Homo sapiens: one gene and its partners. The protein of the gene in region 1 purifies or fractionates together with the protein of each later gene. This does not show direct contact. Each region holds a gene or a part of one and is shown on either strand. Other genes may lie near its edges. The genes, in order: OR6T1, SLC12A4, TSPAN10, UBQLN4, ESYT1, FNDC3B and GUCY1B1.

Region 1 (3,464 bases):
CATTTTGAGAGACAGCCAGCCAACTGATGAGGCTCTCCAGAACTGATAAGCAGTTATTCAGGTTGACAAAGAGAGGCTAGAGAACAGACTTTAGTGCATGTATTTTATCACAGTAGCCAGAAACTGATTTTGTGTGTTTGACGGACTTTATAAGTTACTTTTAATAATATTTAACCAAAGCTTTGGAAATAGCCACAGTAGCATGTTTTCCTTATCTGAAATGATTATGTTATCCTGAAACAGTGCTCTGGCCTCCTTTGCTGGGTTTTATTATGGTATTTCTTTGATTTTGGAGACACAAGCCCTAGACTAGCAGAATGAAGCATTATTATTACTTAGCTACTTAAATCCCAGACTTATTCTTTCCAAAATTGATGTAAACAGAACAGAAATATCCTTCAAACCTGGATTTCTTGCCTCAGTTCAATACTATCTGTTAAAGTAGCTTCAGACAGAATTGAGAAAATATCTGTGCTCCTCGTCTTTAACACTGTTGGTCTGAAGTAATAGATATTCCTCAGTTAAACTGTCTAAACTCTCAACACTTCATTCCTTGTCAATTAAACAATGTAACTTGATGCTCATTTTCATTCTTTTTGTCTTAGAACATTTTCCATTTTCCCTGATTAGGCCAAATCTATGTGATTCTGAGTATTTGGTGCTAGATGTTTAAAAAAAAAAAAAAGAACCCAAGATATCTAATTGTCTAATGAAATCCAGTCCTTCAAAACATGTGGATACATTTTACAGGATTCCAAAAGCTCCAAGGACAAGATGAACATATCTCCAAATTAAGGCAAAAGTTGAGAAGGCAAGTTGATATATACCATCTCCTTTGAGACCATTCTCCCTTATTCCTCATTTTATACTATTAGAATATTGAGCAAGCTGAAGGTAAGAGAAGCTAGTAAGCATTCCACAAGGAAGAAGGATTTCTAGCATTCTACAGGAGTCTGGATTGGGGGAAAAAAGAAAAATAACACTTTATGACAGGACTGGGCTTTGCACAATCCGGTCCTATTTGGCTTCATGGCTGACTAATGAAAATTAAATCTCTGAGTATACCGAGAGCCCAGATTTTTAAATTCTGTTATTTTATGTCAAGCCAGGACACAGAAGGACCATAAACACTAAAATGAGAGTTCTTAATACCAGTAAAATTTGTTCATGGTGCATTTGTTCTGTGAAGTCTTCTCTGACCCCTCTACTCCTCTGGACTCGTCTAAAGCCACACTACTCACACGGTTCTCTGCCTGAGCTCAACAGTATCAGCAGCATGTGCTGGAGTCACAGAAGCTCAGTATGAAATCCTGCCTCTACCACCTGTTTCCTACCTGATCATAGAAGAGTCACTTAAACTCCCTTCGTCATCCTTTTCTTATCTTTGAAAATAGTAAAACATAGTTTTAAGAGTAGCTAGGAGAAGAGATACTGTGCACCGTGTAAATTTTCAGATATATAATTGATGTTCAATATTGCCATGCTGCTTACTATTGTAATTTGTTTCTCTCTTTGTAAGTCACGTGCAGACCAAACTATAGATCAACATATTCTCAGAATGTAAGGAAGTGTTGGGTGTTCAATATTATTTTACCGATTGGTTAAATGATGATTGGTAGCTATAGACCAGTTACAGAGTTCTGTTTCATTTCCCCTGCAGGTGACTGAAGATGAACCCTGAAAACTGGACTCAGGTAACAAGCTTTGTCCTTCTGGGTTTCCCCAGTAGCCACCTCATACAGTTCCTGGTGTTCCTGGGGTTAATGGTGACCTACATTGTAACAGCCACAGGCAAGCTGCTAATTATTGTGCTCAGCTGGATAGACCAACGCCTGCACATACAGATGTACTTCTTCCTGCGGAATTTCTCCTTCCTGGAGCTGTTGCTGGTAACTGTTGTGGTTCCCAAGATGCTTGTCGTCATCCTCACGGGGGATCACACCATCTCATTTGTCAGCTGCATCATCCAGTCCTACCTCTACTTCTTTCTAGGCACCACTGACTTCTTCCTCTTGGCCGTCATGTCTCTGGATCGTTACCTGGCAATCTGCCGACCACTCCGCTATGAGACCCTGATGAATGGCCATGTCTGTTCCCAACTAGTGCTGGCCTCCTGGCTAGCTGGATTCCTCTGGGTCCTTTGCCCCACTGTCCTCATGGCCAGCCTGCCTTTCTGTGGCCCCAATGGTATTGACCACTTCTTTCGTGACAGTTGGCCCTTGCTCAGGCTTTCTTGTGGGGACACCCACCTGCTGAAACTGGTGGCTTTCATGCTCTCTACGTTGGTGTTACTGGGCTCACTGGCTCTGACCTCAGTTTCCTATGCCTGCATTCTTGCCACTGTTCTCAGGGCCCCTACAGCTGCTGAGCGAAGGAAAGCGTTTTCCACTTGCGCCTCGCATCTTACAGTGGTGGTCATCATCTATGGCAGTTCCATCTTTCTCTACATTCGTATGTCAGAGGCTCAGTCCAAACTGCTCAACAAAGGTGCCTCCGTCCTGAGCTGCATCATCACACCCCTCTTGAACCCATTCATCTTCACTCTCCGCAATGACAAGGTGCAGCAAGCACTGAGAGAAGCCTTGGGGTGGCCCAGGCTCACTGCTGTGATGAAACTGAGGGTCACAAGTCAAAGGAAATGATCTTATTAAATGGGAGATTAAATGTTTATTGAAAATTTTTTAAATGTGCAAGAAGTTTAAGGGATGTAGGCAACACTGTTCACTTTTCTCAGCTAATGAAAGAACAGTCTTCATAAATATACAACATGAAATACGGTGGTAAACCTTCATTTTCCCTCCCTACAACCTTCCTTGTGCCTCCTCCTCCCCACAGAGAAGGCTGATCCAATTGGTCAAATTTCTTTCAAGATGGAATCCTTGGATTGGAGAGCATGTGTGAGCACGTGACCCGCATACAGGGAGGCTCCTCCTTCTCTTCGTGTGTGCTTAAACACTTTTCTTACTGCCTCAGTCTCCTGTGTCATGTAGCCAATCAGAAGATGCTGAAATATGGAGATTCAGATTTGGAGCTCAGTGGGGAGTAAGAGGGTCTCTGAGGTCTTCCAACTAGACTGGGTACTGCAAATAAAATTAACCAGAACCTCTGTATTATTAGAAAATCAAATTCTGGCTGCAGTAATAAATGGTTCTCTGATTTGCATTTGTTATTGCTCCTTATGTAACTAGCAGCTCCTATAGGAATCTCATAAAGGAAGAATGTTAAGACCAGTGAAATATTTGGATAGCCCTAATTCCTAAGTCAAACTCTACTAACAAACTCAAATATGGCAACAAACTGAAATATGGCAACACTCATTTAATCATTCCTTTAAGAAATATTATTAAATCTCTAATATGGCAAGGCTCCAACTAGGGTGAGCCAAGGAAGATGTCTACAGAACAAATTTTAAAGAGACATGCACTTTTAGGGGAGTGTTAGCGCAGGGTCAGGCTGTGTACAAA
Region 2 (4,116 bases), on another chromosome or scaffold:
CCACCCAGCTATGGAGTTTCTTCTGCCACAGCCCCAACCTTACGACCGACTCCTGTGACCCCTACTTCATGCTCAACAATGTGACCGAGATCCCTGGCATCCCCGGGGCAGCTGCTGGTGTGCTCCAGGGTGGGTCCTCCCTCCCGTCGTCTTGCTCTTGAGCCCACAGGCTGAGCAGGGGCACAGAGCACAGAGCTGTCCTTGTGTGGCCAGCTTGGGAACGGGGGCAGGACTGGCCGCCTTCCCAGCCCCCCAGTGTCCTCCCAGCCTGGCTCCTGGCAGCCGAGTTTGGAGTGAGTGGAGCCTGTCTGGCCAGCGTCCAAGGCCTGCAGCAGCCTGTCTTCCCCAGCCACCAGCCCCTGACACTGCCTGGGGATGTTCCCACAGGATCCATAAAGGCCTCTGTGGAAGGCGGGCAGTGGCGGGCTCTGGGTGACGGTGGTTCAGCCACCTTTGTCTGTCGACTTCTAGCTGGGCAGCTCCTTCTCTGTGGTCAGGGTAGCCCTGTGGCTGACGCTGCAGTCATTGGGCTGAAGCTGTTCCCTGAGTCCCCAAAGTTGCCCTGCATCTGCGCCTCTGGCTAGGCTGCCCCAAACTACCTGGGGTAGTGGGGGGCAGCTGTGGTGGTGACACAGCTACCCCTGCAGAAAACCTGTGGAGCGCCTACCTGGAGAAGGGTGACATCGTGGAGAAGCATGGGCTGCCCTCCGCAGATGCCCCGAGCCTGAAGGAGAGCCTGCCTCTGTACGTGGTCGCTGACATCGCCACATCCTTCACCGTGCTGGTCGGCATCTTCTTCCCTTCTGTAACAGGTGAGCCCTGCCTGCCTACCCACCCAGCCCTGTCCCCAATCCCGGGGAGCCCCTGAGGGAGTCTCATCTGTTTTTGGAGGCATCATGGCTGGCTCAAACCGCTCTGGGGACCTTCGTGACGCCCAGAAGTCTATCCCTGTGGGGACCATTCTGGCCATCATTACAACTTCCCTCGTGTGTATCCTTTCCCAGGCCTGGGGCAGGTGGGGCAGAGGACGGGAAGCGCTTGGCCTGTGTACGTTGCCAGGTCACATGCACAGACACCCCACACACTCATATATAGCTCCCCTTCTCATGCACACATGCACATACACACCACGAGACTCCCAGCTGTAGGTGTCCTGGTAGTCTGGCTGGGGTGGGGGCACGTGGTACTATTCAGGGACAGTGGGGTGGCAGAGGCCGAGTTTTCCTTGACGCCGCCGCAGACTTCAGCAGTGTGGTTCTCTTTGGTGCCTGCATTGAGGGTGTGGTTCTCCGGGACAAGTGAGTGAGCTGGGCCCCCCTCTTTAGCAGCGGCTGGGCTTTGGCCTGCCCTCACACCAGCTCCCAACCCCGTGGGTGGTCCTAAGCCTGCTGGCTGCCTTTGGTGGTCTGTGCCATCCTTCCGGACCCCTGACATCCCTCACTCTGGTGGCCCCTGCAGGTATGGCGATGGTGTCAGCAGGAACTTGGTGGTGGGCACACTGGCCTGGCCTTCACCCTGGGTCATCGTCATCGGCTCCTTCTTTTCAACGTGTGGCGCTGGCCTCCAGAGCCTCACAGGGGCACCACGCCTATTGCAGGCCATTGCCAAGGACAACATCATCCCCTTCCTCCGGGTGAGCCCCTCTGCACTCCCCCATGGCCTGGCTGCTCCCAGGCCCTCGCCCGGCTGGGGAGAGAGATAGGGAACACAGATGCAGCACGTCCTGCCCTTATTGGCCCCCGGGGCCAGGCGGCCATCCATGAGGAGCTACTGAGAAGTGCCCTGGGCCTGGCACTCACCTGGGCCTGGAGCTGCCTGGACCCAGAATCTTCATGGCCTGTTTAGGGCTCATCCAAAGGAGAGAGGCCTGGTGAGGTGGAATCAGGGAGACTGGTGACACCCATAGGGATAGACACAGGGGCGGCCTGAGCCCCCAAGGCGGGCCCTGGGGGTGAGGGAGGCCAGGCTGGGGTCTGGGGCCCAAGGTGTGGAATGGGGGTGACAGGACCCAGCTTCCTTCCTGGTGCACACAGGTGTTTGGCCACGGGAAGGTGAATGGTGAACCCACATGGGCACTCCTCCTGACGGCACTCATCGCCGAGCTGGGCATCCTCATCGCCTCCCTCGACATGGTGGCCCCCATCTTATCCATGTGAGCTGGGGCCGGGCAGGGCAGGGGGATGGGGAAAGGCTTCCTGAACCCCAGCACCTCCCCGTGGCTGCGTCTGGTGTTGGAGGTCCAGCTGGGAGATGTGGCAGGCTGCATGGGGAGATGTGGCCTGACAGGGCTCAGCCCACCCCTGCATTTAGGAGCAAGCCTGGCACCTATGCCAAAGCTATAAGGTGACCAATATGTCCACACCTCCCTGAGGCCCCCAGAGCAGGTGGCCGGCAGACCTTCCCACTGGACAGGGCAACCACCGCGTCCCTCATGCCTCCATGAAGCCACTGCTGCCCCTTCCATCTGTTAGTTTGTTTTTTGGTTTTTGTTTTTTTTTTTTGAGACAGAGTCTCACTCTCTCACCCAGGCTGGAGTGCAATGGCATGATCTTGGCTCACTGCAATCTCCGCCTCCTGGGTTCAAGCAATTCTCCTGCCTCAGCCTCCTGAGTAGCTGGGATTACAGAAATGCACCACCACGCCCAGCTAATTTTTTGTATTTTTAGTAGAGATGGCGTTTTACCATCTTGGCCAGGCTGGTGTCGAACTCCTGACGTCAGATGATCCACCTGGCTCGGCCTCCCAAAGTGCTGGGATTACAGGCGTGAGCCACCATGCCCAACCCATCCATTTTCAAAGTCATTTGCTTTTAACATTCTGGAATCAGCCAGGCAAATCTGCGTGCCAGTGCCTTGCAGGGAGTGGCCAGCATGTGGTGACTCCCAGGGACCCCGAGGCAGCGCTTGTTTGGTTGACTCTGTCCAGGCTGGGGTCCTCGCCCACCCTGCTCCGTGGCTGACGCTCCTTCTTGCTTGTGCGGTTATGAAAGGCCTCCTCTTCCCTGCCCACTCAGCCTGCAGACTTGACAGGGGCCCTGTACCCCTGAGCAGGCTCCATCCCAGCTACAGCCAGGCCTGCTGGAGCCAGCACCCTCTTGTCCACCCCCCCACACCCCTTCCTCTCACCCAAGAGCACACCTGAAACTGTTTTGCCACAGCCATCTTGGGTGGTGACCCCCCTTGTGCCCAAATCAGAGGCTACATCTCAGCCTTTATCTCGGGCCTCCTGCTGGGAGCCCCTGCCCCCTGGCATGCCCTGTGTGGGTCCTCCTGCCTTCCTGCGCACCCGTCCTCGGGTGCCTTCCTGGAGGGCTCATGCAGCTGGCCCTGCCCATGCGTGGGACTCCCACGCCCACCGCAGTGACTCTTAAGTATCTCTGACTGGTTGCATTCAAATGGTCCAGCTTATCTTCCATCCTCCCCTTCATGCATGGCAGCCTCTCATCCAGCTGGTCACTCAGGCCAGAGGCCTGAATGTGGCCTAGAGTCTCCAGGCACTGAGCTCTTCCTGCTGCCCCTGCACCACCCTCTTCAGCTCTGCCCTGTTACTCCCCTTCCTACCTCCTCCAACAGCAAACCCTTGCCCATCCTCTGCGATCTGGCTCCGAGGACTCCTCCACAGTAGTCTCATTGCCTCAGGCCATGGAGGTGGCAGCAATGAGGTTGAGAAGACCTTGCTGAGCCATGCAGGGCAGGGCCGGGCCACGCCCCGTTTCTGGGCCAGGCCCAGCCTGACATCAGGTCCCCAGCTGCCGAGGAGGCTGCTCTTCGCCAACCGCCCTCTGTGCCGCAGGTTCTTTCTGATGTGCTACCTGTTCGTGAACCTCGCCTGTGCGGTGCAGACACTCCTGAGGACCCCCAACTGGCGGCCCCGGTTCAAGTACTATCACTGGTGAGCCATGCCTCTGACACGGGAGACCCTGGGGAGGCCAGGAGCCTCATTCTGGGTGAGGCTTGGGTTTCCTGGGTAGGGAGCTCTTGAAACACTGTGGGGAGGGAGATTATAGGGCTGCGGGGGACTGGACCTAGGTCTTACACCCAGTGACCTGACCACCCACCTGGGACCTCCCACCCGGGACCTGACAGGGCTACCAGGGCATGGGCCAGGCTGTGGCCA
Region 3 (4,116 bases), on another chromosome or scaffold:
ACTCCCATCGCCGAGGCTGGAGTGCAGTGGCACAATCGTGGCTCACTGTAGCCTCGACTTCCCAGGCTCAGGTGATACTCCCACCTCAGCCTCCTCAGTAGCTGGGACCACAAGTGCTCACAATCACACCTGGCTAACTTTTTGTATTTTTAGTAGAGATGGGATCTTGCTATGTTGCCCAGGCTGGTCTCTAACTACTACTAGGTTCAATCAATCCACCCACCTCAGCCTCCCAAAGTGCTTAGATTACAGGCATAAGCCGCTGTACCCAGCCAGGTTTCTTCTTATACCTCTCTCCTTAGCTCGAAGATGGCACCTTCTCCCCGAGACCTCACATGTTTTTTCTTCTGTGCACACATTCCTCGTGTCTCTCCATGTGTCCCACCGTGTGTCCCAATTTTCTTGTAAGGATGTTGGATTAGGGCCCACGCTAATGGCACTTATTTATTTATTTAGGGATGGAGTCTTGCTCTGTCACCAGGCTGGAGTGCAGCGGCACCATCTCGGCTCACTGCAACCTCTGCCTCCTGGGTCCCAGCAATTCCCCTGCCTCAGCCTCCCATGTAGCTGGGATTACAGGCATGCGCCACGATGCCCAGCTAATTTTTTGTACTTTTAGTAGAGACAGGGTCACACCATGTTGGCCAGGCTGGTCTCAATCTCCTGACCTCATGATCCACCTGCCTCGGCCTCCCTAAGTGCTGGAATTACAGGTGTGAGCTACCGCGCCCAGCCCCTAATGGCCTTTAAAGGCCCTGTCTCCAAGTCCCATTCTGAGGTCCGGGGGGCTAGAACTTTATCATAAGAATGTAAGGGGCACAATTCAGCCATAACAGTGGTAGATGATGATCGTTTCATTAAAAGATTACCCAGACTTTGGCCGGGCGTGGTGGCTCACGCCTGTAATCCCAGCACTTTGGGAGGAGGAGGCGGGCAGATCACTTGAGGTCAGGAGGTCGAGACCAGACTGGCCAACATGGTGAAACCCCATCTCTACTAAAAATACAAAATCAGTCAGGTGTGGCGCCTGCAATCCTAGTTACTCAGGAGGCCAAGGCAGGAGCATCGCTTGAACCCAGGAGGCAGAGGTTGCGGTGAGTCAAAATCGTGCCACTGCATTCCAGCCTCAGCAACAGAGCGAGACTCTTGTCTCAAAAAAAAAAAGGTTACCCATCCTTAGAACAGACTGAGTTGGAGGCCGTGGACAGTCCCTGTGACCGTGACCCTGGCTGTGGAGCTGCTGCAGGGCCCATGAGGTTGGGTTTGTCACCTTTGGGGAGGTGAAGGGAAGCTGGAGCCCAGAAGCTCAGCCTGCAGCTCTGGTCCTCGCCCCGACTTCCCACCTGCAGCATATCCCACTTCTCCGAGGAAGATCTGAAGACTCAGAGTGGCCTTCAAGGCCTCACCTGATCCAGCCCTGTCACCTCATGGACCTCCCTCCCACCCCCATCTCCGCTTGCCCCACACAGCCAGGTGACCTTTCCTCCTAAAACTTGCCCGGTGTGCTCCCACCCAGGCGTCTCACGCGCGCCTGAAACCCTCTGCCTGCTCCATCAGTACATTGCCTGCTGTGCTGCACCACCCAGACCACCTCTTTGGACTGCTGAGTGTTGGTGGCTGAGTCCGGGCACAGTGGCTCCAGCCTGTAATCCCAGCACTTTGGAAGGCCAAGGCAGGAGAATCACTTGAGTCCAGGGGTTCAAGACCAGCCTGGGCAGCACAGCAGAACCCTGTCTCTACAAAAAAAATTCAAAAATGAGTGAGGCAAGGTGGCGTACATCTGTAGTCCCGGGAGGCGAGGTTGCAGTGAGCCGAGATTGCGCCATTGCACTCCAGCCTGGGCAACAAGAGCGAAACTCAGTCTCAAAAACAAAAACAAGGAGGTGATCTGGTGGGGGGACGCTGTTTCATTCGTGCAGTGAACAAGCCGGGGGATAGATTGGCGCTGGGGCTGCCCATGGGTCTCTTGGGATTGGGGTTGTGAACCAATTTACCAGGGTCTGATTCCCTGGTTGGGAGCTGATGGAGCGGCTGCTGACCCTGCAGAGCTGAAGTCCGCATGGGGGGCTGCAGTGAGAGCCACAAGGCTGGCACCCAAACATGCCTGCCTGAGTCACACCTGCGCTGAGCTTAGGGGACCCACAGAGCCAGGGCTGGGGAGAAATATATCTCCACAAGCAGAGGCCTCCTTAAGCTCTAAAATGTGATTCTTCACATGACTCAACTGTGACTCCGGCATCTGGGTAGGGCTCGCACCTCCCCCATTCCCATGCCCAGGGCTGCACTGTTCACAGACTAGCCCAGGGCCGCAGTCAGGACCAGCCCAGCAGCCCAGCCACAGAGGAGCCAGCGAACCTCTCCCGGCGCCTGTGCTGGGGGCTTTCTGTTCCAGCGTCAAGGATGGAGGAGGGGGAGAGGAGCCCCTTACTGTCCCAGGTGAGCCATGCCAAGTGGCCTTGCCCTGAGGTTGGAGATGTCCCCAGCCCTGAAGTCCTAAGGGAAGTCCCTGGGCTGGGTTCACACCCACCCCTGCCCCTGGTGCCACCCCACACCTCAATGCTGAGATTGGGTTGAGGGGGGTGGTTCTAGGCAGCCCCCTCCCCCTTCCCCACTGCGCAGTTCTCTCAGCCCCATGCTGGCCTCTGGTCAAGGGATCTGCCAGATCTCCCTGAGGGCCTTGGGGGCAATCTTTGGCTCAGGGTGCAGGAGGGGGTGAAGGCAAATGTCCCTTGCAGCCAGCCTCCAACGGCCTCTGGCCCCCAGTGGCCCCAGTCTGGCCAACCAGGCACTGACAGCCTGTCCTTTTGCTTCTAGTGACTTGTTGAGGTCTTGGGGGTGATAAATAACCCTCCTCTGGGGCCGGGCACAGTGGCTCACTCCTGTAATCCCAGCACTTTGGGAGGCTGAGGAGGGAAGATTGCGTGAGCCCAGGAGTTCAAGACCAGCCTGGGCAATGTAGCGAGACCCTGTCTCTACAAAATATTATATATATATATATATATATATATATTTAGATAGAGTCTCGCTCTGTCACCAGGCTGGAGTGCAGTGGCACAACCTCGGCTCACTGCAACCTCCGCCTCCTCGGTTCAAGCAATTCACATGCCTCAGCCTGCTGAGTAGCTGGGATTACAGGCACATGCCACCACACCCAGCTAATTTTTTTTAGTCGAGACAGGGTTTTACCATGTTGGCTAGGATGGTCTCGATCTCCTGACCTCGTGATCCACCCGCCTCGGCCTCCCAAAGTGCTGGGATTACAGGCATGAGCCACCGTGCCCGGCCTACAAAAAATAATTTTAAAAAATTACCGGGACGGCCGGGCGCGGTGGCTCACGCCTGTAATCCCAGCACTTTGGGAGGCCGAGGCGGGCGGATCACGAGGTTAGGAGATCGAGACCATCCCGGCTAAAACGGTGAAACCCTGTCTCTACTAAAAATACAAAAAATTAGCCGGGCGTAGTGGCGGGCGCCTGTAGTCCCAGCTACTTGGGAGGCTGAGGCAGGAGAATGGCGTGAACCCGGGAGGCGGAGCTTGCAGTGAGCCGAGATCCCGCCACTGCACTCCAGCCTGGGCGACAGAGCGAGACTCCGTCTCAAAAAAAAAAAAAAAAAAAAAAAATTACCAGGACATGGTTGCAGTGCCTGTAGTCCCAGCTACTCAGGAGGCTGAGGAGGAAGGATGGCTTGAGCCCAGGAGTTTGAGGCTGCAGTGAGCTGAGAGCCTGATGCTGTGATCAGCTTCTTCCTGGTGAAACTGGATTGGAATGGGATCCTTGCCCAGCACACAGCCATGGCTGCTTTTTATTATTTATTTAGTTTTTGAGATGGAGTCTCGCTCTGTCACCCAGGCTGGAGTGCAGTCACGCGATCTCTGCTCATGCAACCTCTGCCTCCTGCTCATGCAACCTCCACCTCCTGGGTTCAAGCGATTCTCCTGCCTCAGCCTCCCAAGTAGCTGGGATTACAGGTGTGTGCCACCACGCCCGGCTAATTTTTTTTTTTTTTTTTTTTTTAGTAGAGATGAGGTTTCTCCACGTTGCTCAGGCTGGTCTCGAATTCCCGACCTCAGGTGATCCACCCACCTCAGCCTCCCAAAGTGCTGGGATGACAGGC
Region 4 (3,500 bases), on another chromosome or scaffold:
TCAACCTCCCGAGTAGCTGGGATTACAGGCACGCGCCACCACACCCGGCTAATTTTTTTGTATTGTTAGTAGAGATGGGGTTTCACCATGTTGTCCAGGCTGGTCTCGAACTCCTGACCTTAGGTGATCTGCCTGCCTCGGGCTCCCAAAGTGCTGGGATTATAGGCGTGAGCCACCACACCCGTCCAGAAAGGGCTTTTATACTGCAAGTCAGGGGGCCTTAGTGACTGACTTTCTCTGTGACCCCAGGCAAGTCCTGTCTTTTCTCTGGATCGAACATTGTTCCTTTCAACACCAGGTGGACGGTGCTTGCTGGACTCTTTCTAGCTATAAGAGTCTTTTTTTTTTTTTTTTTTTTTTTTGAGACGGAGTCTCGCTCTGTCGCCCAGGCTGGAGTGCAGTGGCCGGATCTCAGCTCACTGCAAGCTCCGCCTCCTGGGTTTAGGCCATTCTCCTGCCTCAGCCTCCCGAGTAGCTGGGACTAAAGGCGCCCACCACCACGCCCGGCTAATTTTTTGTATTTTTAGTAGAGACGGGGTTTCACCATGTTAGCCAGGATGGTCTCGATCGCCTGACCTCGTGATCCACCTGCCTCGGTCTCCCAAAGTGCTGGGATTACTGGCGTCAGCCACCGCACCCGGCCACTATAAGAGTCTTTTGTTCATAATCAAGGCTTGTGCTTTCCAAATACCCCTTGGGCAAACATTTACAGGAGATAATTAGAGGAATGACAAGAATGAAAAGCCAAGCTAGCCAGGCGGTGGCTCACTTCTGTAATCCCAGCAATTTGGGAGGCCGAGGCAGGCAGATCACCTGAGGTCAGGAGTTCAAGACCAGCCTGACCAACGTGGAGAAACCCCGTCTCTACTAAAAATACAAAATTAGCTGGGTGTCGTGGCGCATGCCTATCATCCCAGCTACTCGAGAGGTTGAGGCAGGAGAGTCACTTGAACCTGGGAGGCAGAGGTTGTAGTGAGCTGAGATCGTGCCATTTTACTCCAGCCTGGGCAACAAGAGTGAAACTCCATCTCAAAAAAAAAAAAAAAAAAAAAAGCCAGGCCAGGAGTGTGGCTCATGCCTGTAATCCCAGTGCTTTGGGAGGCCAAGGCAGGGGACTGCTTGAGGCCAGGAGTTCGAGACCAGCCTGGGCAACGCGGGGAGACCCAGTCTGTAAAAATTTTTTTCTTTTAAAAAAAGTCTTAGTGCAAGCTGGGCATGGTGGCTCATGCCTGTAATCCCAACATTTTGGGAGGCCAAGGCGGGTGTATCACTTGAGGCCAGGAGTTCAAAACCCACCTGGCCAACATGGTGAAACCACGTCTCTACTAAAAATACAAAAATTAGCCGGGCTTGGTGGCATGCACCTGTAATCCCAGCTATTCAGGAGGCTGAGGCAAGAGAATCGCTTCAACCCGGGAGGCAGATCATGCCACTGCATCCAGCCTGGGTGACAGAGCGAGACTCCGTCTCAAAAAAAAAAAAAAAAGAAGAAGACCTAGTGCAGTGGCTCATGCCTGTAATCCCAGCAGTTAGAGAGGCCAAGGCAGGAGGATCACTTGAGACCAGCCTGGGCAACATAGCAAGACCCTTTCTCTGCTAAAAAAATTTTTTTCTTTATTTTTTATTTTATTTTTATTTTTTTGAGATGGAGTCTCACTCTGTCCCCCATGCTGGAGTGTTATGGCACAGTCTCGGCTCACTGCAACCTCCGCCTCCCGGGTTCAAGCGATTCTCCTGCCTCAGCCTCCTGAGTAGCTGAGACTACAGGCTCCTGTCACCATGCCCAACTAAGTTTTGTATCTTTAGTCTCGGGGTATCGCCATGTTGGCCAGTCTGGTCTCGAACTCCTGACCTCAAGTGATCCACCTGCCTCAGCCTCCCAAAGTGCTGGGATTACAGGCATGAGCCACCACGCACTTTTGTTTTTTTAAGATGTACTCTGTCTTCCAGGCTGGAGTGCAGTGGCGCAATTTCAGCTCACTGCACCTCCGCCTCCCGGATTCAAGTGATTCTTCTGCCTCAGCCTCCCAAGTAGTTGGGACTACAGGCATGCGCCACCACACCTGGGTAATTTTTTGTGTTTTTAGTAGACATGGGGTTTCGCCATGTTGGCCAGCCTGGTCTTGAACTCCTGACCTCAGGCAAACTGCCCATCTTGGCCTCCCAAAGTGCTGGGATTATAGGCATGAGCCACTATGCCCAGCCAAAAAAAAATTTTTTTTTAATTGGCTGGGCAAGGTGGTACACACCTGTAGCCCCAGCTACTCAGGAGGCTCAGAGAGAAGGATCACCTGAGCCCAGGAGATAGAGGCTGCAGTGAGCTATGATTCTGCCACTATATTCCAGCCTGGGTGCAAGACCCTGTCTCAAAAAAAAAGGAAATACTTCTCTTTTATAAATAACTGTTGATCAGTGAAACAAAATTAAATAGCTTCTTAACTGGGACCCTTCTCTAGCCTTTCATATGGCTGTACGTGTGATGACTATTAGGAGGGGCCTTGGAGGTCATGCTTAGTATGCATCTTATTTGACCATAGAACATTTGGCTTTTGGAGTGCCTGTTAACATCTCCAGTGTTTATGGAAAGTAATGAGGAATATATGCTGATCTAGGCCTATCAGTTATCTTGAAAATCTAAAAAAGATATCCGCCTGCCATATTATTACACAGTTTTGTTTGTTTGTTTTTTTGTTTTTGTTTTTTGAGACAGAGTCTCGCTCTGTTGCCCAGGCTGGAGTGCAGTGGCGCGATCTCGCCTCACTGCAAGCTCCGCCTCCCGGATTCACGCCATTCTCCTGCCTCAGCCTCCTGAGTAGCTGGGACTACAGGGCGCCCACCACCACACCCAGCGAATTTTTTGTATTTTTAGTAGAGATGGGGTTTCGCCGTGTTAGCCAGGATGGTCTCGATCTTCTGACCTCGTGATCCGCCCGCCTCAGCCTCCTAAAGTGCTGGGATTACAGGCGTGAGCCACCGTACCCGGCCATTACACAGTTATTTAGGACTTGGGACCTAGGCTCCTGGGCCCCCATTTGCAGCTCATCTTCCCTGCCCTCCTGATTGACTCTGAGGATATTAGAGAAGACCTGCTGGTCTTAGAAACCCTTAATTCAAATAGGGCCCCCAAGATTGGTCCTGTGCCCACTTCACAAGGCCTGTCCCCTCCAGGTGCAGACGCCAGAAGTGAGATTTCAGCAGCAGCTGGAGCAGCTCAACTCCATGGGCTTCATCAATCGTGAGGCTAACCTGCAGGCCCTGATTGCCACAGGAGGGGACATCAACGCAGCTATCGAGAGACTGCTGGGCTCCCAGCTCTCCTAATCCCTCGGCCCATGCCTCCTGCCTCTCCCCTCCCTCGATGTCAGCATTCGGTTCTTCTGTCAATCCTTACCCTCTGCAGCTTGTCCTCCCTTCCGTCTTCTCCCTCATCCTTTCCAAACAGCAGGGTGACTTTAGAGGCATGGGCTCCAACCCCTTAGCTCTGTCTGAGAATTATGGTT
Region 5 (4,116 bases), on another chromosome or scaffold:
TTCTCCTCTCCTTCTTTTCCCTTGATTCCTATTTTTAATCCATCTACCTAGACTCCCCACCTCCCTGAATATCTCTCCATTGTTCCCCAACTGTCGCTCCAGAATAATATTTTTTTTTTTTTTTGAGATGGAGTCTCGCTCTGTTGCCCAGGCTGGGGTGCAGTGGTGCGATCTCGGCTTACCGAAACCTCCACCACCTGGGTTCAAGCAATTCTCCTGCCTCAGCCTCCCGAGTAGCTGGGATTACAGGCAGGCACCACCATGCCCGGCTAATTTTTGTATTTTTAGTAGAGACAGGGTTTCACCATGCTGGCCAGGCTGGTCTCGAACTCCTGACCTCAGATGATCCGCCTGCCTCAGCCTCCCAAAGTGCTGGGATTATAGGCATGAGCCACTGCACCTGGCCTTAGTTCATAGGTACTTGTTCTTGAATGATTTTATATATGTGTGTCTTGTCTATGAAACTGGCCAGTAAGCATTGTGAAAGCAGATGCTATGTTTCGTGCTTTCTCCATGACCTTTAAAATGCTGAATGTTAACAATTTTATTGAGGCATAATTTACATACCATAGAATCACTCATTTTAGGTATACAAAAATTATTCTGAGGCTGGGCACGGTACCTAAAATGAGTGATTTTATGGTATGTAAATTATGCCTCAATAAAATTGCTAACATTCAGCATTTTTTTTTTTTGAGACAGTTTCGCTTTTGTTGCCCAGGCTGGAGTGCAATGGCGTGGTCTCGGCTCACCGCAACCTCCACCTCCTGGGTTCAAGTGATTCTCCTGCCTCAGCCTCCTGAGTAGCTGGGATTACAGGGATGTGCCACCATGCCTGGCTAATTTTTTTTGTATTTTTAGTAGAGACGGGGTTTCTCCATGTTGGTCAGGCTGGTCTCGAACTCCCAACCTCAGGTGATCCGCCCGTCTCAGCCTCCCAAAGTGCTTGGATTACAGGCGTGAGCCACCGTGCCCGGCCCAACATTCAGCATTTTAAAGGTCATAGAAAAAGCACAAAACATAGTATCTGCCTTCACAATACTCACTGGCCAGTTTCAGTTTCATAGACAAGACATACACATATAAAATCATTCAAGAACAAGTACATATGAACTAAGGCCAGGCATGGTGGCTCACACCTGTAATCCTAGCACTTTGGGAGGCCAAGGCAGGTGGATCACCTGAGGTCAGGAGTTTGAGAATAGCCTGGTCAGCATGGTGAAACCCTATCTCTACTAAAAATACAAAAATTAGCCAGGCATGGTGGTGCGTGCCTGTAATCCCAGCTACTTGGGAGGCTGAGGTAGAATTGCTTGAGTCCGGGAGGCGGAGGTTGCAGTGAGCCAAGATAGCGTCACTGCACTCCAGCCTGGGTGACAGAGTGAGACTCCGTCTCAAAAAAAAAAAAAAAATCAAAAATTTGCCAGGTGTGGTGGCATGTGTCAGTAATCCCAGCTACTTGGGAGGCTGAGGCAGAAGAATCATTTGAACCCGGGAGGTAGAAGTTGTAGTGAGCTGATTTCAAGCACTGCACTCTAGCCTGGGTGACAGAGCAAGACTCTGTCTCCAAAAAAAAAAAAAAAAAAAAAAGGAACAGAAGAATAGCAACAATTACATATGAATTTGTGGGAGTAAAATATCCATAGTATAGGACTAAGGAGGGTCAGAGAAAGGGATAGGCTGGAGTAACTAGGGAGATTTTGTGAAGCAAAAAATTGGATTTTAATTGAGTCTTGAAGGATGAGTAGGATTTAAATAGGCCGAGGGAAGAGAATGAGGACTTTCCAAATAGTGGGAGCAGAATGAACAAAGGTGGAAGGGGCCATGGATTGGGCAGAGGACTATAAAAGATGGCTCTGGCCGAGGTGGGCGGATTGCCTGAGCTCAGGAGTTTGAGACCAGCCTGGGGAACACCATGAAACCCTGTCTCTACTAAAAAATACAAAAATTTAGCTGGGCGTGACGGCATGCGCCTGTAGTCCCAGCTATTTGGGAGGCTGAGGTAGGAGAATGGGTTGAACCCAGGAGGTCGAAGTTGCAGTGAGCCAAGATGGCGCCATTGCACTCCAGCATGGGCGACAGAGTGAGACTCTGTCTCAAAAAAAAAAAAAAAAAAAAGATGGCCCTGAGTGGAGCAGGAGGTTTGTGATTGGTACAGAGAGGAATGAAGTTGGAGCCATGTTATCATTTTCACAGTATGCCTCCCTTTCCCCTAATCCCTTCACTACAGTCCTTCCTCCTGTGCCTGTAGGTGAAGGATGATTCCAGGGCCCTGACTTTAGGAGCACTGACGCTGCCTCTGGCCCGCCTGCTGACTGCCCCAGAACTCATCCTGGACCAGTGGTTCCAGCTCAGCAGCTCTGGTCCAAACTCCAGACTCTATATGAAACTAGTCATGAGGGTATGGAAATAGAGGAGGTACTGAGGTGTGGGGGAAAGGCCTGTTGATTCTTTGGTATTAAGAGTAAGGAAAGGGACCCCCCTAAGATTAAAAGAGCTAATACATGTAGAAGTGCCAAGCAGGCACAAAAACATATATTGATCTGACTGGTGGAAGGAATGGCTTATGAGTTGAGGGGGTGTGGAGGGAACCCTGTAGAGATGAGCCCAGCCAGGGCAGCACCTAGTTCCCCTGTCACAGCCCCTCCTCTACCCCACCCCACATGCTTTGCCTGCTGGTGACGAGCTGCACTTCTTTGATTCAGCATCATACTACCCTTCCTAGATCCTGTACTTGGATTCATCAGAAATATGCTTCCCCACGGTGCCTGGTTGTCCTGGTGCTTGGGACGTGGACAGTGAGAATCCCCAGAGAGGCAGCAGTGTGGATGCCCCACCTCGACCCTGTCACACGACTCCTGATAGCCAGTTTGGGACTGAGGTGAGTCTATATCTGGAAAGGACTAGGGTCTGTTTGCCCCGCTAAGTATGCAAAGCCTGTTTCAGGGCAGATTCTGACAGGTCTCTCTCCCTTTGCCATCTGGCACCCCCCCGTCCCTTTTGCAGCATGTGCTTCGGATCCATGTATTAGAGGCCCAGGACCTGATTGCCAAAGACCGTTTCTTGGGGGGACTGGTGAAGGGCAAGTCAGACCCCTATGTCAAACTAAAGTTGGCAGGACGAAGCTTCCGGAGCCATGTTGTTCGGGAAGATCTCAATCCCCGCTGGAATGAGGTTTTTGAGGTCAGAATTGAGTGGCTGTGACTCCTGGTTCTGCCCCATTTTTCCCCCAATCCCAAAAGTGGTCCAGAAACCTCTGAGGTTCAGTTGACTGGGGGGTCCAGTCATTTGCAGAGGAAAAGGAGAGAATCTTTCATCTGCACTATTTTCTCCCACTAGGTGATCGTCACATCAGTTCCAGGCCAAGAGCTAGAGGTTGAAGTCTTTGACAAGGACTTGGACAAGGATGATTTTCTGGGCAGGTGAGAGCATAGGAGTCTACGTGAAAAACAGGCTGGGGCTCTTTAGGCCATGGAGTCTGGCCTCCTTGGTTCTCACCATCTAGCTTTTGTCTTAATCTTTCTCTTCAACAGGTGTAAAGTGCGTCTCACCACAGTCTTAAACAGTGGCTTCCTTGATGAGGTGAGCATTGAATTAGAGTCAACAACCCCTCCTGATCCTGCCCAAGCTTCATTCTCAAAGTTCTCCTGTCTGCATATCCCCAAGTCTTCACCCTGCCTACTTCCACAGTGGCTGACCCTGGAGGATGTCCCATCTGGCCGCCTGCACTTGCGCCTGGAGCGTCTCACCCCCCGTCCCACTGCTGCTGAGTTAGAGGAGGTAGGGCAGGAGACTTGAGGAAGGAAGGGACCCAAGGTGGGGCAGGATGAGCTCTTCTCTTAGCGTTCAAGGCACATGCCAGAACCCAAGGTGTCAGTTACCACTCCCCAGCCCCGTGTGCCCCTCCACAGGTGCTGCAGGTGAATAGTTTGATCCAGACTCAGAAGAGTGCGGAGCTGGCTGCGGCCCTGCTATCCATCTATATGGAGCGGGCAGAGGACCTCCCGGTGAGATCCCGCTCCCCATGCCCCATAACTTCCTGGCCCTTCTTCCACCTTCCTCCGGTTTGGATGGTCCTGGAGTATTTAGAATAAGAAAAATGGCCCCTCTCTTTCT
Region 6 (4,116 bases), on another chromosome or scaffold:
ATGTTATCAAAAAGATTTTCTTTCTTACAAAGAGAAAAACATTTGGCAGCTTTCTTACAAAAGTGAATGTACTCTAAAACTTAGTTTTCATTTAGCTTATTGGACAGCTTATGAGGTTGAATTACAAAACTAAAGGAGTTTGAGTTTTGTTTTGTTTTTTGTTTTTGAGACAGGGTCTGTCTCTGTCTGGAGTGCAGTGGCGCAATCTCAGCTCACTGCAACAACCTCTGCTTGCCAGGCTCAAGTGATCCTCCCACCTTAGCCTCCTGAGTAGCTGGAACCACAGGCACATACCACCACACCCAGCTAAGTTTGAGCTCTTAAATCAAGGTCTAAAACAAAACTTATAACTCCTTTGTTAATTTCAAAGAAGCAGGCTTAAAGCATTTATTTGCTATTAAATCACAGTTGAAACTCTACTGCAACATTTTGTCATACCCACTTCTGTTTCATTACAATACCTCAATACCTCAACTCTCTTTCTGGAAAAATTTTAACATGACAAATTATTTTATAAGTATGTATTTCGAGATTTTGGTACTGATATAAATGTATCACAGGGGCAGAAAAATAGGATATCATGGAGCCCAATGTTTCTATCAACTAGGGCTTTGTATCACCATATCACAGAAGGACAAGAACATGGCTTTTAAGAGTTGAAGCTTAGTTCAAACCTTGATTCCATCATTTAACAACTGTGTGATCTTAGGTTAGTTAATTTCTCTGAGCTTGTTTCCTCAGCTGTAAAATGGGGACAGTAATGCCTAATTCATAGAATTACAGTAAAGATTAAATCGGTTAATATGTAAAATGCTGGCAGAGTATCAGGCCAACAGTAGGAGCTACACTTTCTTCCTTCCCACTGGGAAAATTATGAACAAAATAGTATTTTCTCTATTTTTTCAAACACCTTTTTATTGTGTACTACTTTTATACTTACAGAAAAGTTGCAAAAATAGTACAGAGAAATTTCTGTCTATCTCCTACTCTGCTTTTCCGAAGAGAAACATGTTACAGAACTATAGAATAATGATCAAAACCAGGAAATTATCACTGGTGGCCGGGCACGGTGGCTCACACCTGGAATCCCAGCACTTTGCGAGGCTGAGGCGGGTGGATCATCTGAGGTCGGGAGTTCGAGACCAGCCTGGCCAACCTGGTGAAACCCCATCTCTACTAAAAATACAAAAATTAGTCAGGCGTGGTGGCAGGCGCCTGTAATCCCGGCTACTCGGGAGGCTGAGACAGGAGAATCGCTTGAACCTGTGAAGCGGAGGTTGCAGTGAGCCAAGATCGCGCCACTGCACTCCAGCCTGGGTGACAGAGCGTGACTCCATCTCAAAAAAAAGAAAAAAAAGAAAAGAAAAACATTATCACTGATACTATACTATTAACATACAGACCTAATCAGAATCTTACCAATTCTTCCAATGTTCTTTTTCTACTGCAGGATCCTACTTTCTTTTTAACTAGCTTGGCTCTATGGAAAACATTTCTTGATTTACACCACTTTTTATTAACAGTTTTCAAATGAAATTTAATTCAAAATCAACTTTTTGTAAATAATAGTATGCCTATAATATACAACATGCCCTATGAATGGAATTACGTTGGTACTTAATTAAAACAGTCCTGAAAATACAAAAATTCAAAAATTCCTGAGCAAAACAAGAAATGTTCCACCACATTTCTATAAAACACAGTACAGGTATTATAATAAATTTTTATTTTTTTGAGACAGGCTCTCACTCTGTCGCCCACGCTGGCCTACAGTGGTGCAGTCACAGGTCACTACAGCCTTGACCTGGCTCAAGTGATCCTCCTGCCTCAGGCTCCTGAGCAGCTGGGACTACAGATGCCTGGCTAATTTTTGTATTTTTTTTTTTTGTAGAGGAGGGGTTTTGTTATGTTGTCCAGGCTAGTCTCTATCTCCTGGCTCAAGAGATCAGCCGGCCTCAGCCTCCTACAGTGCTGGGATTACAAGTGTGAGCCCCCATGCCCGGCCAATATTTAAATTCTTAAGTGCCATATATTCAAAAAATATTGGGGTTTAACTTGACTTTGTAATCATGTTGAATGAAAATAATTCATATTTGGTCCACAAATAACAATAAATTGGTATAGTTTGAACAGACCCCCTTCCTGGCAATAGTCCTTTAGTGTGGCAATGGTAATCTTAAAAGTAGTACTCCCTTCATAAGATCTGACTCATTTTATTATAAATAAGCACAGACCTTTGAAAATATATTTCTACTCCTGTTAATACAACGAGGCAAGATTATGCAGGTACTATTCTTATTAATGTATCTTTTATAATGCAGCTTTGGGAAGTCAATGCTAAGACAACATAGACTCTGAAAGAGAAGGAGATATAATAACATTTTAAAGAAACACCAAAACTCAAAAACCATAATGGAGTGAAGCTCTTTACTGGGGTGGCAGACAGCTCTTTATTTATATCCTGCCTTGGTAGAAAAACAAGAGTGTGGCACATAATTTAACCTTTCCCCAGTGACTCAGCATCACTATTATAAATATCAGACAATTTGCTGTGACACTGACTCATTGTCAAAAGGTTAATTATGTCCCAGGTGCTTCATTCGAGAAGCAAGAAAGGTGTATAACAAAAGAGTTTAATCAGAAATGTTTCAAATACAGCAGACTTCTGAATTTAACAGAAATGCTTCAGTTGATCTGAAAAATTAAGTTATGAAGCGAATATTTTCTCCAAAGAGACCAGAGACATTGGGTGTACTTATAATAACGAATTTGATCCATGACTTAAATCAGGTGGGAACTTGACTTTGGCATCTTTGCTTCTTTATCTATTCAAATCTAAATGTGTATGAAGACAGAGCTCTTCAAGGTCAACAACCACATCTGATTAATCTTTGTATCTCTCTTCCTGATCTTCCTTTGATCCTGGTACAAAGTACTATAATGCTCAAGAAATGTTACTGAACAAATGGAAAGAGGAGGACAAAGAACTCTATTTTCTCAAGAGACTAAGGCTTTACACAGAAAAAATAATAATATAGCCAAGAGAGTAAAATAAAAGTAAACCCATGGTTATTGTCACTCTGAGGGGTTAGGCTATGAACCAATTTTTCTTGATGTTATTCTATCTGGACTCCCAAGTGGAAGCTTATAGATAACCAGCCTTGATAACCGTCACTGGGAGGTGGGAGGTGGGGTCCTGTAATCTAATGCAGACTAGTCCAGATTATTTTTGGCTCCATTTAACAGCTCGTAAAATAATTTTCTGTCTTTTACCAGTTCTAAGAGTCTTTCCCACTGAAATGTACATCTCAGGGGAATGAGACAGAAGGCTCCTTCCCTAAGGAGCTGTGTCATCTTTCCCTTGGACTTGGGTCATTTATTCAGCAAACTGATGAACAGACAAGATACAAGGGTGGTGAGAAGCAGAATGGAGAAGAATCTTATTTTGTTCTTAAGTTTCAGAATTTCCTAGAGAAGTGGAAATTAACTGCAAAACACCAAAACAACCAAATATATTTTTATTTAAATGGACTCTTTTTTTCCATATCATCCCTCCTGACAGCCTCCACCACAAGCCTTTGAGTGGGTTTCCCAAAGTGCCTTTCATGGGACAGCAGTCCTTGTGAGTAACATCTGAATAATGTCAACCTACCTGTAGTCTACAGCAATACTGTGCAGCAGGCAACAGGTCTCTTATTTCAAAACGGGTGTCTGTCCCATGATAAATGAGTTCTAAGGATTCTTCATCTTCTCCCCATTCCAACCTGTACTCTGAGATGTCAGCACCAGAACTATCAGGACTCTGGAAAGGCAGAAATGGAAGTAGTTAATAATGCCACTGAGAAGAGAATCCTACTGTGCTTGTATTCAATTAACTAAAATGGGAAAGAGAGCAACATGCCCCAGAATATTTCAAATACATATAAAAGAAAGGCACGATCACAAATATATATACCTACTATGTACCCACAAAATTTTTTTTGAGATTTAGAAATTTAAAAATAAAATAGGGCCAGGTGCGGCGGCTCATGCCTGTAATCCCAGCACTTTGGGAGGCTGAGGTGGGTGGATTGCCTAAGATAAGGAGTTCGAGACCAGCCTGGCCAACACAGTGAA
Region 7 (4,907 bases), on another chromosome or scaffold:
TATATGTACTGTTAGGTGGAGACTGTTGGTGACAAGTATATGACAGTGAGTGGTTTACCAGAGCCATGCATTCACCATGCACGATCCATCTGCCACCTGGCCTTGGACATGATGGAAATTGCTGGCCAGGTTCAAGTAGATGGTGAATCTGTTCAGGTTAGTAAATGAAGTAGATATTGTAATAATGGTATGTAAACCTTTTTGGACAATTGATTCATATCGTTGTCCGGAAAATCATTAACGTGTATAAAGAAGGGCATCTTGACAACAAAGACTATAGCATTTCATCCAGCCCACTGTACTACATTCTTTCATAGACATGGAGATTTATCTACCTGTTTGAAATTATCTAGTCCGTTTCATGTACTGAAAGTCATGGGGATGAGAAAAAAACCTCTTGTACCTTCTAGTTTATTTTTTAAAACCTCTTTCATGTCTCATGTAAGTTACTAGATTCACATCTTTGAAATCTTCAGACTTCAAATGTTTCTCTTGAGATAGGATATTTCCCTGGGGAGATAGAGATTTCATGGAGGGCTTTTGAAGTTGTCCATAATATGCTTGAAATTCTTATAGACATCTCTTACGATGTTATATGATGACTCTACATTATTCTGTAATATAAAGTAAGCAAAAATTCATGTGTTACAGGAACAGAAAACCAAACACCACATGTTCTCACTCATAAGTTGGAGCTGAACAATGAGAACACATGGACACAAGGAGGGGAACATCACACACCGGGACCTGTTGGGAGTTTGGGGGCAAGGGGAGGGAGAGCATTAGGACAAATACCTAATACGTGCGGGGCTTAAAACCTAGATAATGGGTTGATAGGTGCAGCAAACCACCATGGCACATATATACCTATGTAACAAACCTGCACCTTCTGCACCTGTATGCCAGAACTTAAAGTAAAATAAAAAAAAAAAAATTCATGTGTTAGTGATCAAAATGATTGAAGCAAAGCTTTCTTTTTTGCAGATAACAATAGGGATACACACTGGAGAGGTAGTTACAGGTGTCATAGGACAGCGGATGCCTCGATACTGTCTTTTTGGGAATACTGTCAACCTCACAAGCCGAACAGAAACCACAGGAGAAAAGGGAAAAATAAATGTGTCTGAATATACATACAGGTGAGAGAAAATGTCTTGGTATTTACTGATTTGCAAAGAAAATGTGTCTTTGCATGTGGTTTAATTCTCTGAGAGATTTTGTTGCTTTAACAGAGTTATCACCTTCACTCTTCCCCACTGCTTGTAGAGTTGTTTACTTTTTATTTGAGAAGATTGTGTCATTATTTCCATTTTATATGATTTCACATCATCTTAGGAAATCCTGATATGATCATTGTTTCTAAAGCTTTGAGTTACCTTTCAGTACAACTTCAGCATTTGTTCTTGCCATCTTGGTTTATAACATGATACATGTCACCTTCTCTATAAAACTTGTGTATACTTCTCTCTCTACTCCCCTTCCCTTGTCTTTTAGATGTCTTATGTCTCCAGAAAATTCAGATCCACAATTCCACTTGGAGCACAGAGGCCCAGTGTCCATGAAGGGCAAAAAAGAACCAATGCAAGTTTGGTTTCTATCCAGAAAAAATACAGGAACAGAGGTATGACTAATCAAAGTGTAATTTGCGTACTTAAGACAGAGTATAAGTATGGAAAACTAAAGCAAAATCACTGAAAATGTATTTCATTTGAAAAGAATTCTTGCTAACAGAAATTAACTTCTAAGTAAAGCAGTGGAAATAATTGAACATTAATGAGCCAATTACAATCATAAGTACTTTTTAGGGGATACTTTAGTGATTTTTGTCCTCTAATGAAATGAAAACCAACAGACTGGATTGAGAAGGCTGCTTTTTTTCTTGCTGTTGTGGTTGTTTTGCTCTTCCTCTGTAGTCTGGCTCAAAGGTAAGTGGGCTGTGAGGGGCTCCCCTGACCCCTTTCCTCAGCTCTCTAAGTTGGCTCTGAGATCACCACAGATAAGGGCTGTGGTTCATGGGAGGTTTCTTAACCATGAAGCTTAAGATCCTTTTAAGGGGCAGGCTATCTTTCTATGGAGTGATTGGGGAATTTTGGAAATCCTAGTCCCTCATGTGTTTCTCCTAGATAGATGAGTGATTTTTAACTTGCTAGAATCTGATTAATTCCTTAGGGAAGATTTAAGTTCTTTCTACTACTATGGTTATACTCCAGGCAGAGCCCATGTGCTAGAATGGACTTCAGAACAGTGGCACATCCAAAGTGGAATCACACCTCTCATAGAGGCCTTGCACACACTAAGATCATGGCTAGCCTCTTCCTAGCCTTTTGTAAGGAGTGGCATCAGAAGCAAGTTTGATACTTTGTTACCCTGTTGATGTGTTGTTTCCTCATGGGGGATAAGACTGCATGCTCATATTTCTCTTTTAGTGTGTATAAACTCTCTAAAGATGCTTTTAGGGCATAACAACTTCTAAAGGGAATAGAATGCCAGGGTTTGAAATATTTATCTTCTTTCACCTGGTTTAACATTAAATCATTTTCCTATGAGGTGGACATGCTTATTGATGTTCTTCTGATAAACTAAGCCGTAATTACCTCAAACATTGGTCATCTTAGTCGTGCGGTCCTGTTTTTCCCAGAATTATGGTGGGAATGATTTACAGAAACTGTAGATGTGAACGTGGATCACACTCTCATAAAGAGAAAAATATATTTAATTGATATTATAAACCTCACTATCACTGTAAATCAATCCCTCTTTTCTTCTGCCTATTTAAGGAAACAAAGCAGGATGATGACTGAATCTTGGATTATGGGGTGAAGAGGAGTACAGACTAGGTTCCAGTTTTCTCCTAACACGTGCCAAGCCCAGGAGCAGTTCTTCCCTATGGATACAGATTTTCTTTTGTCCTTGTCCATTACCCCAAGACTTTCTTCTAGATATATCTCTCACTATCCGTTATTCAACCTTAGCTCTGCTTTCTATTACTTTTTAGGCTTTAGTATATTATCTAAAGTTTGGCTTTTGATGTGGATGATGTGAGCTTCATGTGTCTTAAAATCTACTACAAGCATTACCTAACATGGTGATCTGCAAGTAGTAGGCACCCAATAAATATTTGTTGAATTTAGTTAAATGAAACTGAACAGTGTTTGGCCATGTGTATATTTATATCATGTTTACCAAATCTGTTTAGTGTTCCACATATATGTATATGTATATTTTAATGACTATAATGTAATAAAGTTTATATCATGTTGGTGTATATCATTATAGAAATCATTTTCTAAAGGAGTGAATTCTAAGTTTTAGGGGAAAAAATGCAATTTATTTTCAGACTCCCAAAGTAAGAATTAACATATCATGCTAAGAAAATAGTGACTATTTTGAAGTATGCTACTTCCCTTTCAGAAATATAGAATACACGTTTCTGTTATTAAAGTATTTGATTACTAATTCAAATCATATGGCAATTATAATTCTTCTAAAATGCTATCATTTGTAACTGTATCCCCTGTATTAAATCTCATTAACCACAGGCAGCTGTTACAGAAAGCTGCATTGTTTCACATTGAGCTGTTACATTAGTTCAGGCTAAATGTTGGGAGCTCCAACCACATCCAAGAATAAATCTGGAAACACACTGCTGGGATACTGCTGTTAGAGCCCTTCTTGGCCTTGTATTCCCAGAAATGAGCTCCCTTTCCTTAGCTTAGAAGAATGTGATTATATCCAGGACATCATGTTCAGAAAACTTAGTTTACTTTCAGCATAGAATGCATTACTGTTGGAATAATTGGCCTCTAGCTCTTAAATGTCTCTGATAACTTATTAATATCTATCTTTATAAAATAGAGTGCAACTACTTTTGTGTAAAAATGTTTGCCTTTAAATTTAGTATTTCATATCAGCACATCGATATATGTATAAATGTTCCATGTTAATGTGTAAAAGAGTCTGTAATAAATTATTTTTTTCACGTGTCTCTATACAGTTTTTATTTCAATAAAAATATTAACATTATTTTTCATTTTATTAATGCCATTATTTTGTAAATACATTTTACAATTTTGCCTATTTGCTACCATTATAAATTTTCACTGACTCCTCATAGACAGCATATTCTTAAATGCTATATTTCTTTTTAATACCAACAGAGTGACAGGAAATAAAGACTGGGCATGGAAAGGGGAAACAGTTAAATATTGAATGTCATCAGCTTATTTAAAGAGCTCTGAATCATTTAGGGATGATAGACATGTATACAAGTAATGAAAATATGCGATATTCATAATGAAGAAATATATTCAAATGCAGAAATAATACTTAGAGAAAGAGTAACTTGAAAGAAAAGAGGTGAAGTGGGGATAGTTGTTATGCTTATTTTGGGGGGAGAGTTAGGAATACTCAGAAACTACATTGACACTGTCATCTTCCCAGAATCCTGCATATATTTATTTAGCATCTACTTTGGGTAGGTACTGCTCAAGATATTTGAGAAATGTCATTGAACAAAACATCTCTGCCTTTGAATACCTCATATTCCAATTTTTACATCTTGCATGTTTTTAAATCTCTACTTTATTCCGCCAACACTCTTCGAAGTCCAGGCACTCATCATGTGTAACTTGAACAATTGCAAGATCTTCCCTATAAATCTGTCTATTTCCTACCTTTGCCACCTCCATTCCACACTCTCAAATTGCTGCCAGAGTGGTCTTTTACAAATCCAAATTGCTCTCCTGCGTACAATCACTTAAATGCTACTCATTGTCTGTACACCTTAGCAAAGCATGTAAACATTGTCACCTTAACCAGCCTTATCTGCTAGTTGCTACCTTTGTAATTCTATGCTCTGCTCTGTCTGAATACCCTCTACCCATACTCTGCTGCAAATTCATTTCTTG

The links.
Region 2: the proteins of OR6T1 (region 1) and SLC12A4 purify together in Homo sapiens (affinity purification with mass spectrometry; one large-scale study listed by BioGRID and IntAct). This does not show direct contact.
Region 3: the proteins of OR6T1 (region 1) and TSPAN10 purify together in Homo sapiens (affinity purification with mass spectrometry; one large-scale study listed by BioGRID and IntAct). This does not show direct contact.
Region 4: the proteins of OR6T1 (region 1) and UBQLN4 purify together in Homo sapiens (affinity purification with mass spectrometry; one large-scale study listed by BioGRID and IntAct). This does not show direct contact.
Region 5: the proteins of OR6T1 (region 1) and ESYT1 purify together in Homo sapiens (affinity purification with mass spectrometry; one large-scale study listed by BioGRID and IntAct). This does not show direct contact.
Region 6: the proteins of OR6T1 (region 1) and FNDC3B purify together in Homo sapiens (affinity purification with mass spectrometry; one large-scale study listed by BioGRID and IntAct). This does not show direct contact.
Region 7: the proteins of OR6T1 (region 1) and GUCY1B1 purify together in Homo sapiens (affinity purification with mass spectrometry; one large-scale study listed by BioGRID and IntAct). This does not show direct contact.

What each region holds. Positions count from the first base shown.
Region 1 is NC_000011.10:123,942,045-123,945,508, reverse strand, and holds OR6T1 (olfactory receptor 6T1), read left to right. Parts: upstream 1-1,670; coding exon 1,671-2,642; downstream 2,643-3,464. UniProt on the Homo sapiens protein: Odorant receptor.
Region 2 is NC_000016.10:67,947,836-67,951,951, reverse strand, and holds part of SLC12A4 (solute carrier family 12 member 4), read left to right. Parts: coding exon 1-129; intron 130-647; coding exon 648-812; intron 813-891; coding exon 892-990; intron 991-1,240; coding exon 1,241-1,298; intron 1,299-1,458; coding exon 1,459-1,633; intron 1,634-2,033; coding exon 2,034-2,152; intron 2,153-3,792; coding exon 3,793-3,891; intron 3,892-4,116. UniProt on the Homo sapiens protein: Mediates electroneutral potassium-chloride cotransport when activated by cell swelling. May contribute to cell volume homeostasis in single cells. May be involved in the regulation of basolateral Cl(-) exit in NaCl absorbing epithelia.
Region 3 is NC_000017.11:81,640,013-81,644,128, forward strand, and holds part of TSPAN10 (tetraspanin-10), read left to right. Parts: intron 1-2,247; exon of another isoform or gene 2,248-2,294; 5' UTR 2,295-2,400; coding exon 2,401-2,436; intron 2,437-4,116. UniProt on the Homo sapiens protein: Part of TspanC8 subgroup, composed of 6 members that interact with the transmembrane metalloprotease ADAM10.
Region 4 is NC_000001.11:156,036,799-156,040,298, reverse strand, and holds part of UBQLN4 (ubiquilin-4), read left to right. Parts: intron 1-3,168; coding exon 3,169-3,321; 3' UTR 3,322-3,500. UniProt on the Homo sapiens protein: Regulator of protein degradation that mediates the proteasomal targeting of misfolded, mislocalized or accumulated proteins.
Region 5 is NC_000012.12:56,134,493-56,138,608, forward strand, and holds part of ESYT1 (extended synaptotagmin-1), read left to right. Parts: intron 1-2,251; coding exon 2,252-2,401; intron 2,402-2,725; coding exon 2,726-2,881; intron 2,882-3,006; coding exon 3,007-3,183; intron 3,184-3,339; coding exon 3,340-3,422; intron 3,423-3,533; coding exon 3,534-3,582; intron 3,583-3,690; coding exon 3,691-3,780; intron 3,781-3,911; coding exon 3,912-4,007; intron 4,008-4,116. UniProt on the Homo sapiens protein: Binds calcium (via the C2 domains) and translocates to sites of contact between the endoplasmic reticulum and the cell membrane in response to increased cytosolic calcium levels.
Region 6 is NC_000003.12:172,346,898-172,351,013, reverse strand, and holds part of FNDC3B (fibronectin type III domain-containing protein 3B), read right to left. Parts: intron 3,803-4,116; coding exon 3,653-3,802; intron 1-3,652. UniProt on the Homo sapiens protein: May be a positive regulator of adipogenesis.
Region 7 is NC_000004.12:155,803,609-155,808,515, forward strand, and holds the end of GUCY1B1 (guanylate cyclase soluble subunit beta-1), read left to right. Parts: intron 1-15; coding exon 16-156; intron 157-984; coding exon 985-1,139; intron 1,140-1,494; coding exon 1,495-1,621; intron 1,622-2,777; coding exon 2,778-2,801; 3' UTR 2,802-4,203; downstream 4,204-4,907. UniProt on the Homo sapiens protein: Mediates responses to nitric oxide (NO) by catalyzing the biosynthesis of the signaling molecule cGMP.